Linked DNA regions of Homo sapiens. The main gene of each other region encodes a partner of the protein of the gene in region 3 in a complex. Each region holds a gene or a part of one and is shown on either strand. Other genes may lie near its edges.

What was found.
Region 1: SYNCRIP (region 3) and IGF2BP1 share a complex: the UniProt entries of both Homo sapiens proteins name them as parts of the coding region determinant (CRD)-mediated complex.
Region 2: SYNCRIP (region 3) and DHX9 share a complex: the UniProt entries of both Homo sapiens proteins name them as parts of the coding region determinant (CRD)-mediated complex.

The regions. Positions count from the first base shown.
Region 1 is NC_000017.11:49,035,385-49,038,984, forward strand, and holds part of IGF2BP1 (insulin-like growth factor 2 mRNA-binding protein 1), read left to right. Parts: intron 1-2,783; coding exon 2,784-3,065; intron 3,066-3,600. UniProt on the Homo sapiens protein: RNA-binding factor that recruits target transcripts to cytoplasmic protein-RNA complexes (mRNPs). This transcript 'caging' into mRNPs allows mRNA transport and transient storage.
Region 2 is NC_000001.11:182,856,138-182,859,964, forward strand, and holds part of DHX9 (ATP-dependent RNA helicase A), read left to right. Parts: intron 1-394; coding exon 395-441; intron 442-1,966; coding exon 1,967-2,103; intron 2,104-2,413; coding exon 2,414-2,503; intron 2,504-2,595; coding exon 2,596-2,757; intron 2,758-2,902; coding exon 2,903-2,980; intron 2,981-3,827. UniProt on the Homo sapiens protein: Multifunctional ATP-dependent nucleic acid helicase that unwinds DNA and RNA in a 3' to 5' direction and that plays important roles in many processes, such as DNA replication, transcriptional activation, post-transcriptional RNA regulation, mRNA translation and RNA-mediated gene silencing.
Region 3 is NC_000006.12:85,615,287-85,619,113, forward strand, and holds part of SYNCRIP (heterogeneous nuclear ribonucleoprotein Q), read right to left. Parts: intron 3,654-3,827; coding exon 3,532-3,653; intron 62-3,531; coding exon 1-61. UniProt on the Homo sapiens protein: Heterogenous nuclear ribonucleoprotein (hnRNP) implicated in mRNA processing mechanisms. Component of the CRD-mediated complex that promotes MYC mRNA stability.

The DNA.
Region 1 (3,600 bases), on a different chromosome or scaffold from region 3:
GTCTAGACTAGGTTGTAAGTTTCCTGCTTCATATAGCTAGTGAGCAATAGAACTAAGATTGGAATACTGGTGTCCTAATTCAGTTATCTTTGCCCTGGGAGCCTGGGCAGATGCGGATGCGAGGTGCGCTGGGAGGTGGCAGCGGTCTGGGGCAGTGGCCTGCGGTGGGTAGGCTGGGACCTCGCAGTCTCCCCACACACATGTGGGGCCCCACCACATGGCGCCTCCCTGCGGGCGTGCACCTGCAGCGGTGGGGGTGGCTGGGGCACCTGGGAACGGGGATGCCTTGCCCTCCGAGGTCTCCCCTGGGCGGCCGCCCATGCCATTTTCCGGGCTGCTCGCCTTCTAGAAGTTCCTGCAGGAAGCTGGTGATGTGGCCTCCCTGACCCGGGCCCGCCCCCCACCACTTTGCTGGAGGGGTAGTCAGATTCCAGCCGGGATACGTAGCAGCAGCTTGGTGGCAGGCGATAGGAAAATGGGCAAAAGCCCCAACTGGCTGGAAGGCAACCCCGGGGGCCGGACCTCCTTGTGGGAGGGCCCGGGACTGCACTAGGCGGGAGTGGAGGCCGCGGCTCCAGGCTGGTCTCGGCCTGGTAATTTGACACGGCCAGCCGGTCACTGTTTAAGGCACTGTGTACCATTTTACTAACTTAATCCTCACGGTGACCGCATTTCCCAGCTGGGCCAACTGGTGCGGGGTTGACTGGAAGCGACCGGGGTTGACTGGAAGCGACCGGCATAGCGCTTGGCAAGTATATAGCAGGTAGTAAAATGGCTGTAATTTTGAAAGTTAGCTTTGTGAAGTGTTGGGGCTGCGGCATCTGCTGGTGGTGTGTGGTATTACAGCCCCGTGCTGGCGGACCCCATTGGGTTGGGGAGCGTTGCGAGATTGTGGCCCCAGAGCCAAGTGGGCAGTTAGGGGTCTCTGGAGACTCTGGAAGGAGAGGTAGCACAAAAGACAGCGGAGGTGTTCGCTTCGGCAGCACATATACTAAAATTGGAACGGTACAGAGATTAGCATGGCCCCTGCGCGAAGATGGCACGCAAATTTGTGAAGCGTTCCATCAAAAAAATAAAAAAATAAAAAATAATAAAAAAAAATGGGGGACTGCGGAGGAGCTAAAATTTCGAGACTGCATGTTTGTTTTTTTTTGTGCACCAGCAGCTCATTAGAAGAATTCCTCAATTGCTGCTTCAACACCCGCCACGATGGCGTTCAACCTGGCAGATTAATTTAACAACTCTCTGATGGGTTGCCCTGAAATTTGAAAAACAGTGCCTTGGGCTGGGCGCGATGGCTCACACCTGTAATCCCAGCATTTTGGGAGACCGAGGCGGGCGAATCACCTGAGGTCGGGAGTTGGAGACCAGCCTGACCAACATGGAGAAACCCCATCTCTACTAAAAATACAAAATTAGCGGGGCATGGTGGCGCATGCCTGTAATCCCAGCTACTCGGGAGGCTGAGGCTTGAACCCGGGAGGCGGAGGTTGCACTGAGCCGAGATCACGCCATTGCACTGCAGCCTGGGCAATGAGCAAAACTCTGTCTCAAGAAAAAAACAAAACAAAACAAAAAACAGTGGCTTAAGCAAAGGCCACAAGAAAGAATTGAGATCAAAGAGGAGTGTGTGCCATGGCTATGGAGGGGTTTCAGTTGTGAATTATGAAATGTCATGTAAACCATTTCAAGCATTTCAAGGAGTTTGAATTTTATATAAAAAACAATGGGAAGACGCTGCAAGTTTTGAAGCAGCATCTCAGACATGTTGAAAAAGATGTTTGGATCCCTAAAATAATGAGAGAAAAGGCCAGAGAGAGGTGTTCTGAACAACTTCAAGATTTTACCAAATGTTGCAAGAACTCTGGAACCCTTACGGTAGGAAAATGCTGGAAAGAAAATTCTCTATTGAAAGGACGTCTAACTGCTCACTATAATGATCCAGCCTTTTATGAAGAATGCAAAATGGAATACCTGAAGGAAGGAAGAATTCAGAAAAACTGGAATTTCTACAAAGAGAAGGCTACAGAAACTTCCCATAAGCCTGTAGGCAAATATTCAAATGATATTCAGGAACTCTAATATTCATGGAAGTCATTTATAGTATAAATTTCCTTAAATAATGGACTCAAGAATGTGTGTTTGCTTTATCCTAATTATGGAAATATTAATTTTTATCTGAAATAAAGATCTTTTATTTCAAAAACGAAAATAAACCCCACACTTCATTAGGGCAGGATTAACATTTGAATTCTACATGTATACATTTCAATCTCCTTTGACCTTGGTTTCATCATCTCTAAAGTTAGGAGTATGTAGTAGTTAGCAGTTGGTTTCCTCACCCTGTAGTAGGGATTCCTCAATCCGGGAAGTGTATGTGTTAGCTTTGTGGAGCCTCTTCAGGTCTGTGGTAGGCTTTCCAGTTGGCATGGGAGTACTTTGAGATCTATGGCTTGCTCTTCCTTTTTAGGCTAGCAGAACCCTATACTTTCTATTGGACTGGAAGCCCATTTCTCTGATGGTTCCAGTGGAAAGCCTTTGTGAACAATAAATCCCAACTAAGTGTTAGGGAACACTGTATTTATTTACTTTTCCTTTGAAGTCTTTGATGCCATTTAGACTGGAAAGTTGTGAAAAATGGAGGTGGAGGTAGTGGGCAGGTGACTATCTCCTTTTCTTTAGTGTGTTCCAAGCTGTAACTTACTAGAGTGCTTTGGCCAAGAGAGCATCTGGTATGATTGGCATGGATTGGAATGACCTGTAGACTCTCACTCTGTCCCCAGAGCCATCATGAAGCTGAATGGCCACCAGTTGGAGAACCATGCCCTGAAGGTCTCCTACATCCCCGATGAGCAGATAGCACAGGGACCTGAGAATGGGCGCCGAGGGGGCTTTGGCTCTCGGGGTCAGCCCCGCCAGGGCTCACCTGTGGCAGCGGGGGCCCCAGCCAAGCAGCAGCAAGTGGACATCCCCCTTCGGCTCCTGGTGCCCACCCAGTATGTGGGTGCCATTATTGGCAAGGAGGGGGCCACCATCCGCAACATCACAAAACAGACCCAGTCCAAGTGAGTCTTGGCTCTTGGGGAATGGAGGTTGGGTGCTAGGGAACAGTGGTTGGTACCTAAAGAGGCCTCCTGGAAGCATGCTGGAGACATCAACATTTACCTTTTAGGAAATGTTGCCTGGAGCATTCAGGGGTCCCTGCTTCCAATACCAGCCTCCTGGGAAAGGGAGGGCAGATAGGGAGGGAGAATGGGTCTGGGGTGCTAGGCCACACACTCGTATTAGCAAGAGAGATTCTATAATTTCTCATGTGAAGTTTCATAAAAAAAGTCTCCAAGCAAACCTCATTTTGATGAGTCAGCAACTCAGTGCTCTGTGATTTCATGATCACTTAGTGTGGTAACAGGGCTGGCCAACCTGTCCAAAATTAGGACCTTCATAATTGTGTCCCATCTCCCATTCTGCCACTGCCACCTTCTTTCTTTAATATTTTTTTTTTTTTTTTTTTGAGACAGAGTTTTGCTCTGTTGCCCAGGCTGGAGTGCAGTGGTGCGATCTCAGCTCACTGCAACCTCTGCCTCCCGGGTTCAAGCAATT
Region 2 (3,827 bases), on a different chromosome or scaffold from region 3:
AAAATAATTATAACCGTAATGTAAAACATTTGGGGCCTACTTTATTTCTTGGCTCCAAGCTAAGTGGAAAATTCCTTTTCATTGAATGTGTTCTAGCTCTTGAGACTCCAGCCTTTGGAATAAGAGTAAGTAAATATAAAATCTAATACCCTAACGTTTTCCTTTCATGAACAATTGGCTCATCAACTTTGATTATAGTTGTCTTATGCCATGTTGTATATTATTTGAAGTTTATATACTTCATTTGTTCTAGGGTTGGGCAGAAATAAATGTTGGTAATTTTTTTTTTCTGTGATTTGCCTAAGCAGTTGGAAAGCCTGCCTGACTTGGGAGACCTGGATTTGCTGGTTTCTAACAGTGAAATTTCTAACCTTGCTTGTATATGTTGTTACAGGAGCTTTATTGCAGAAATGACCATTTATATCAAGCAGCTGGGCAGAAGTAAGTGTTACTGTTTCCCCAATATTCCAAGTCTCTGTATAGAGAAGGAATCTTCACATTTTAAGTCTTGAGTCACGTATACAGAAGCTGTATTATTTGAAAGAGCACATAATGTAAGATAGCATCTAGGGTATATTTTAGAATATTAGTAATTATATAAATTAGAGGCAAAGTCTCCCAGTTTGCATGTGAAAACAGACCATGTTAGTGTAATCTTTCAAAGGTAAGACACAGTGGGATGATTAGGAGTCTGCCAGTGTCAATTAATTTTAAACCTTTTTTGTTTTTTGAGACGGAGTCTTGCTCTGTCGCCCAGGCTGGAGTGCAGTGGTGTGATCTCGGCTCACTGCAAGCTCCGCCTCCCAGGTTCACGCCATTCTCCTGCCTCAGCCTCCCCAGTAGCTGGGACTACAGGTGCTGCCACCAAGCCCGGCTGATTATTTTTTGTTTTTAGTGGAGACGGGGTTTCACCATGTTAGCAGATGGTCTCTATCTCCTGACCTAGTGATCTGCCTGGCTCAGCCTCCCAAAGTGCTGGGATTACAGGCGTGAGCCACTGTGCCTGGTCTTAAACATTTTTTCATTTTTATATATACAATGAGTTATTTTGAGTGGATGGATAATACTAAGGGAGAGAGGATAAAGGCAGGCTAACTTCTGTCAGCTCACTTACCTTATCGAGGTTAATTTGGCTAGTTAGGCAGAAAGATACCTTTGTACCCCTTTGCTTTATATTCATCTCTCCTAAGGATGAATGATACAGGAGGAGAGGAAACTTTCTGTTAATATTTTCTATAAGGATATGAGTAACTTAGCTTTAGTTTAATGCTAAGGTCAGCAAACTATAGCCCTCTGGCCAGATCCAGCGTACTGCCTGTTTTTATAAGAACTGTTTTATTGTAACATAGCTACACTCACATTTTAGACTTTACAGGTCACACATTGTTATTCTCATTTTATTTTTACAACTCTTGAAAAACGTAAAGCCATTCCCAGTCCTATGGTTTATCAAACTCTGTTGTCAGTGACTGCTTTCACACATTAAAGGCAGAGTTGAGTAGTTGTGACAAGATACTATATGGCCTGCAAAGCCTAAAATATTTATTAATTGACCGTTTATAGAAAAAGTTTCCCAAATCCTGGTCTAGGTAACCACTCTGGACCCAATTACTTTTACTGGTTTATTTTTTACTCTTTGTCTTTTCAAACTATGTTTTCTTCCCCATTTTAATGTCTGATATTAACAGTGACAACTTTGTTGAAATAGGTTATTTGCTTTCATAATATTGATTTGTATGAGTCCTAGTATCAGCCAGTAATCAAAACTGTTGGTTATTTAGTTGATAAGCTGTTTGGCAATTTCTTTTGTTTAGCAGATATTAATAGAATAAAAAGGAACTAGAAGCCATGGCATACCCTGTATTTTAGGGCTTCTTGTGTACGTAAGCCCATAGTTTCTTGTGATAAGATGTTTCTTTACTCAGATGATTTCTTTCTGTCTGATAATCCTGACCTTACATTATAGGGATTTTTGCACGAGAACATGGATCAAATAAGAAATTGGCAGCACAGTCCTGTGCCCTGTCACTTGTCAGACAACTGTACCATCTTGGAGTGGTTGAAGCTTACTCCGGACTTACAAAGAAGAAGGAAGGAGAGACAGTGAGTCTTTAGATTTAATAGACTTGTGAGATAGTGTGAGATTCAATTTAGCTCTTGTTTAGTGTTTGGCTGAAGAAGTTTAATTTTAAGAATCTTACCTCAGGAAATGAAAATGGCCCTGCTAATCATCTCTGTGTCTGGCATGATGTTCATAATAGGCAGTGAGTAAATAATCATTGAAGTAATTCTCTCACAAAAGGGAACTGACTATTGGTTTAGGAATATTGTAGACCTAGTGTTGACTGTATAGTCTTAGCCCCATTATAGTAGATTTGAGTAGTGTTGTTAATGTGTGATCCTTTTTCCATAGGTGGAGCCTTACAAAGTAAACCTCTCTCAAGATTTAGAGCATCAGCTGCAAAACATCATTCAAGAGCTAAATCTTGAGATTTTGCCCCCGGTAAGCATAAAGCTGTTTAGTTCACATTTACGTAGAACTCTCCGTAGACAAGCAAATCATATTTTTTGTTTGTTTTTCTTATTTTTTAATAGCCTGAAGATCCTTCTGTGCCAGTTGCACTCAACATTGGCAAATTGGCTCAGTTCGAACCATCTCAGCGACAAAACCAAGTGGGTGTGGTTCCTTGGTCACCTCCACAATCCAACTGGAATCCTTGGACTAGTAGCAACATTGATGAGGGGCCTCTGGCTTTTGTGAGTGCAATATTGTTTTTGAGATCAGAGTCTTGTGTTTTACTCTTGAGACTATATTTGATTAGTATGTCTAGGTAAAAAATGGATTTATTTTGAAGCTGAATTATGTGCTTTTGTTTGACTATGTTGGCTTTTTGTTTTACAGGCTACTCCAGAGCAAATAAGCATGGACCTCAAGAATGAATTGATGTACCAGTTGGAACAGGATCATGATTTGCAAGCAGTAAGTCTGAATTATTTAGACAAGTAGTGCTCAGAGCTTCAGAATGTTCTAGGTATGGGTAAAAAGTCAATGAGCAGTACATTTTGCCCTTTTAAGGAGGGCATATCAAAAGATATGTACCAAACTGCTAATCCTAGTTACCCCTGAAGTTAGTTGCTATGAGTTGAGGGCCTGTGAGAGAATTTCACTTCTTAATGTAATTTAATAAAAGTGGAGAGATTTAAGGCAGTGACTCCTTTTGTTGTTGGTTTTTTTGTTTGTTTTAGTGTTTTCCAAATAAAAAATTAAAATGTTAAAAAGAATGCGTGTGCGACTTTCAGGGACAATGAGAATTTAGTTTTTGGACAACATCAAAAGATACATTCTTCAGAAGTGTAGTGAAAAGAAGTAGTTCTATTAGAGATATAAATATACACATTCTTTTTTGAAAAAAACATTTTCATCACTAAGCCAATGGAAATGAGTAAGTTTTTATAGAGATGGAAGTTTGGTTTTTTTGTTTGTTTTTTTCTTGAGACAAAGTCTCGCTTAGTTGCCCAGGCTGGAGTACAGTGGCTCAGTCTCGGCTCACTGCACCCTCCGCCTCCTTGGTTCAAGCAATTCTCCTGCCTCAGCGTCCCAAGTAGGTGGGATTACAGGCACACCCCACCACACCTGGCTAATTTTTGTATTTTTAGTAGAGATGGGGTTTCACCATGTTGGCTAGGCTGGTCTCGAACTCCTCACCTCATGATCCTCAGCCTCCCAAAGTGCTGGGATTACAGGCGTGAGCCACCGCGCCCAGTCTATAGAGATGGAAGTTTTTTAAAGGATCAAGACAGTTGCTTCTAATGTGTTGGTAGACATT
Region 3 (3,827 bases):
CCCTCGACCTCTTGTTGGAGGGGGCATATGAGGTGGACCATAATAGTAGTAATCGTCATACCTATTAAAAAAGAGACAGAGATTAGAGTTTAAATCAAATTACTTAGTTAACAAGTAGGCATTTAGCCATTTGTAACAGTTTAAATCCAGAGTTTACTTCGCATAATTCACATAACTTTAATACAGAATTATTTGTACTAGATTAAGTTTTAGTAGTAGTAATGATCAGAGGATCAGGATGACAATATAGGCATCCCAAAATACCACAAATCTCTAGTTATGAACCTTATTTATTTCTTCATGATCTTCAAAATCTCCCAATAAACCTGTTACAGAATTTTTACAATTGATTTAGCTGTCAAATTTGCCACTTTAGGGCTGGGAGCGGTCATGCCTGTAATCCCAGCTATGCGGGAGGCTGAGTGAAGCAGGTGAATCGCTTGAACCCAGGTGGCGGAGGCTGCAGTAAGCCAAGGTCACATCACTGCACTCCAGCCTGGGTGACAGAGCGAGACTCTGACTCAAAAAAAAATTTGTCACTTTGAATTGCATTTCTGCTAAGATTCTATTCCAATATACTTGAAGAACATTTATTACAAAAGCAAAATGGCAAGTAGGACAAGCACACAACCAAAATGTGTGAAGTTCAAAGTTTACTACAGTAAATTAGCATAAAGACCTTAAAGTTTTCCTGTTTCTACAATAATGCTATCCAAGTAAAATTTAAAAGATCTGCTACTTTCCCAAAAATAAACTACACCGTAACTATAGTGCTGAACTTTAACCACTAAACAGGTATAACTTTAGTTGTCAAAGTGATTAGAAAGCAACCACACAAATCAGCATATGCTTACATACTATGTAAAAGGACTAAACGAAGTTACAATATTCCAACTCATGTTCCCTACAGTACAATTTTATACAATTCCTTAAAACTTAGTGATTATTTTGAGCCCAATAATCCCATGAAATATGGAAATTAATCCCTCTTGAAGGAATAATTTACTCGTGTTTTTTATTCCGTACCTGTTATGTTATTTTATTTATTTATTTATTTGAGACACAGTCTTGCTCTGTCACCCAGGCTGCAATGCAGTGGCGCAATCTCACCTCACTGCAACCTCCACCTCCTGGGTTCAAGTGATTCTCCTGCCACAGCCTCTCGAGTAGCTGGGACTATAGGCATGTGCCACCATACCTAGCCAATTTTTATTTTTAGTAGAGATGGGGTTTCACCATGTTGGCCAGGCTGGTCTCGAACTCCTAACCTCGAATGATCCACCCACCTCGGCCTAGAGTGATCTGCCCACCTCAGCCTCCCAAAGTGGTGGGATTACAGGCATGAGCCACCACGCCCGGCCTTATTTTATCCTGAATTATTAAAGGCCCCTGTTCCAACTGACTAACGTAAAAATGTTATTCCGGTTCACTAGGTCCTTAGACCTTTTATGTGCTCTGCTGGTTTATTGTTTTGAGGAAATGATGGAAAGATCATCCTTTTCTATTTCTAAATAGTTCTCACCAGGGATAATTTTGCCACCACCTCTTTCCAGGGGGACATTTTAGACGGTCATAACTGAGAAAGGGGGTGCTACTGGCATCTAGCAGGAAGAGGCCAAGGATGCTGCTAAAAGTCCTACAACGCACAGGGCAGCCCCCAAGACCAAGAATTATCCAGCCCAAAATGTCAGGAGGACAGAGATGAGAAATCCTGGTATAGTGGTTAAGAGGGAAAATTATGGGAGACTAGACTACCTTAGTTCAAATCCAACTCCACTACTTACTATGTGAATGACCCCAAGGAAGTTGACTTCTGAGCCTCAGTTTCCTCATTTCAAACTAAGGGATAGAGTACCTAACTCACAGGAATACAGTGAGAATTATGTAGGAATACGTGCTTAGTTAAAACTTAAAAAAAAAAAAAAAAAGACTGTAGCAAGTTAAAGTACGAAAGTAACATGCAATCATCCCTTTTAGTTTGTACTCCTTTTCAAATATTAACAGATATACTGACATCCTCCACCTTCTATTTAGTATCTCCCTCTATCAAGTACCAAATGTAACTGCTCTAATCACATTATCTAATATAATCTCCTATACTTACATTCTACTTTAATAAATTAACCATATATCGTCTTCTGAAAGAAATAAAAAGAAGTTATTTTACACTGTTTAGTATATCCAGGTGTTTGAAATATAGAGCATTAAAACTAACTCTTTTTGTAGTCTTCCTTCATTTACACTATCATCAAACCTACAAAGTATATTTTCTTTGGTCCCAGAACAAGCATGGGTCACTTGGATAATCACATAATCCAGAGCTATTACATAATTTTGTCTGATCCCATTTTAGAACTGAAGAAATTGAGGTTCAGAGCTTGCCAACTTGTCCAACTGGACAATTAACTGCAGAAACTAGAACTTGATCAATTCCCTGATTATGAAGTAACAGAAATATGTAGAAGCATCCTCTTCCTTTAAATTCCAAACAGGGCAATCAACAGAAAATTAACCTTGAATAGTATTGACAGTGATTATTGCTCTCACATTCAAGAACAATTACCCCTCTTCTAGGAAATCAGTAACTAACTTTTTAGGAGCTAACTTCAATTCTTACCCAACTAAGTTTCCTTCAGTCTTAAGCAGATACCTATTTACAGATTCTCTAAAAAGGTCTCCCTAATTAGTATAACTCATTACACACCTACTTGTTTTCTTATTGCACTACTGTGTTATAATTTTAATACTCATTTCATTTTCAAAATCCATCCATCGAACATGAAATTTTTGGGGTGGCAATGAGCACTACTGGTGAAGAAACAGTCTATCATGAATAGAGATTTAGTATTTCCTATCTCTCAGAGAAAAAACTCTCCACCCTTTAACAAAATGTATTAAGATATTTGGACAGCTAATATTTAAGACATTTTCAGAAGAACATTCTGTAAAATACAAAGAAAATATGTGAGATAGGCCAGGCATGGTGGCTCACAGCTGTAATCCCAGCACTTTGGGAGGCAGAGGTGGGCGGATCACCTGAGGTCAGGAGTTTGAGACCAACCTGGCCAACATGACGAAACCCCACCCCTACTAAAAAAAAAAACACAAAAATTACCAGGCATGGTGGCGCCTGTAACCCAGCTACTCAGAAGACTGAGGCAGGAGAATCTCTTGAACCCGGGAGGTGGAGGTTCCAGTGAGCCGAAAGAGTGCCACTGCACTCCAGCCTGAGTGACAAAGTGAGACTCTGTCACCCAATACAAAACAAAAAAAAAGCTAGACAGATTTTTCATCTTGCCAATTTACCAAAATTCCAGTTATTTACAATTCTGATTATTTTCACAAATATGGTTCATAGTAAGAGTTCAATAAACACTTAGATCACTGGTGTTTCCCTATGACTCTCAAACGTTCAAGTCTTCTTTAAAGAGATGTTATGCATTTAACAAGTCTGATCAACACCTGTTATTTTCCAATTAGTGTATAAATATTAAAATTTATACAATTTTTAAGTATACAAATTTCACTCACATTTGATTTTTTGCTGCTTGCCTCTGAGCTTTTCTTTCTTTCCTTTTCTGATCTGGTGGCTTGGCAAAAACAATTTCAATATTTTCTCCCTCCAAGTCTTTGCCATTCATTTCTTCCATAGCCTTAAAAAATTAGATAAGTCAATATAAAAATAGGACTTTCATACAATTATGATTCATTTAAAGTTGGAATATCATTTATCATTAATGTGGGAAGGACAAGAGAAAGCCCCATGCAGGCAGTCAAATAATTTTATTTAAAGATGCAGATATTCAATTATTTTTCATTTTTACTTA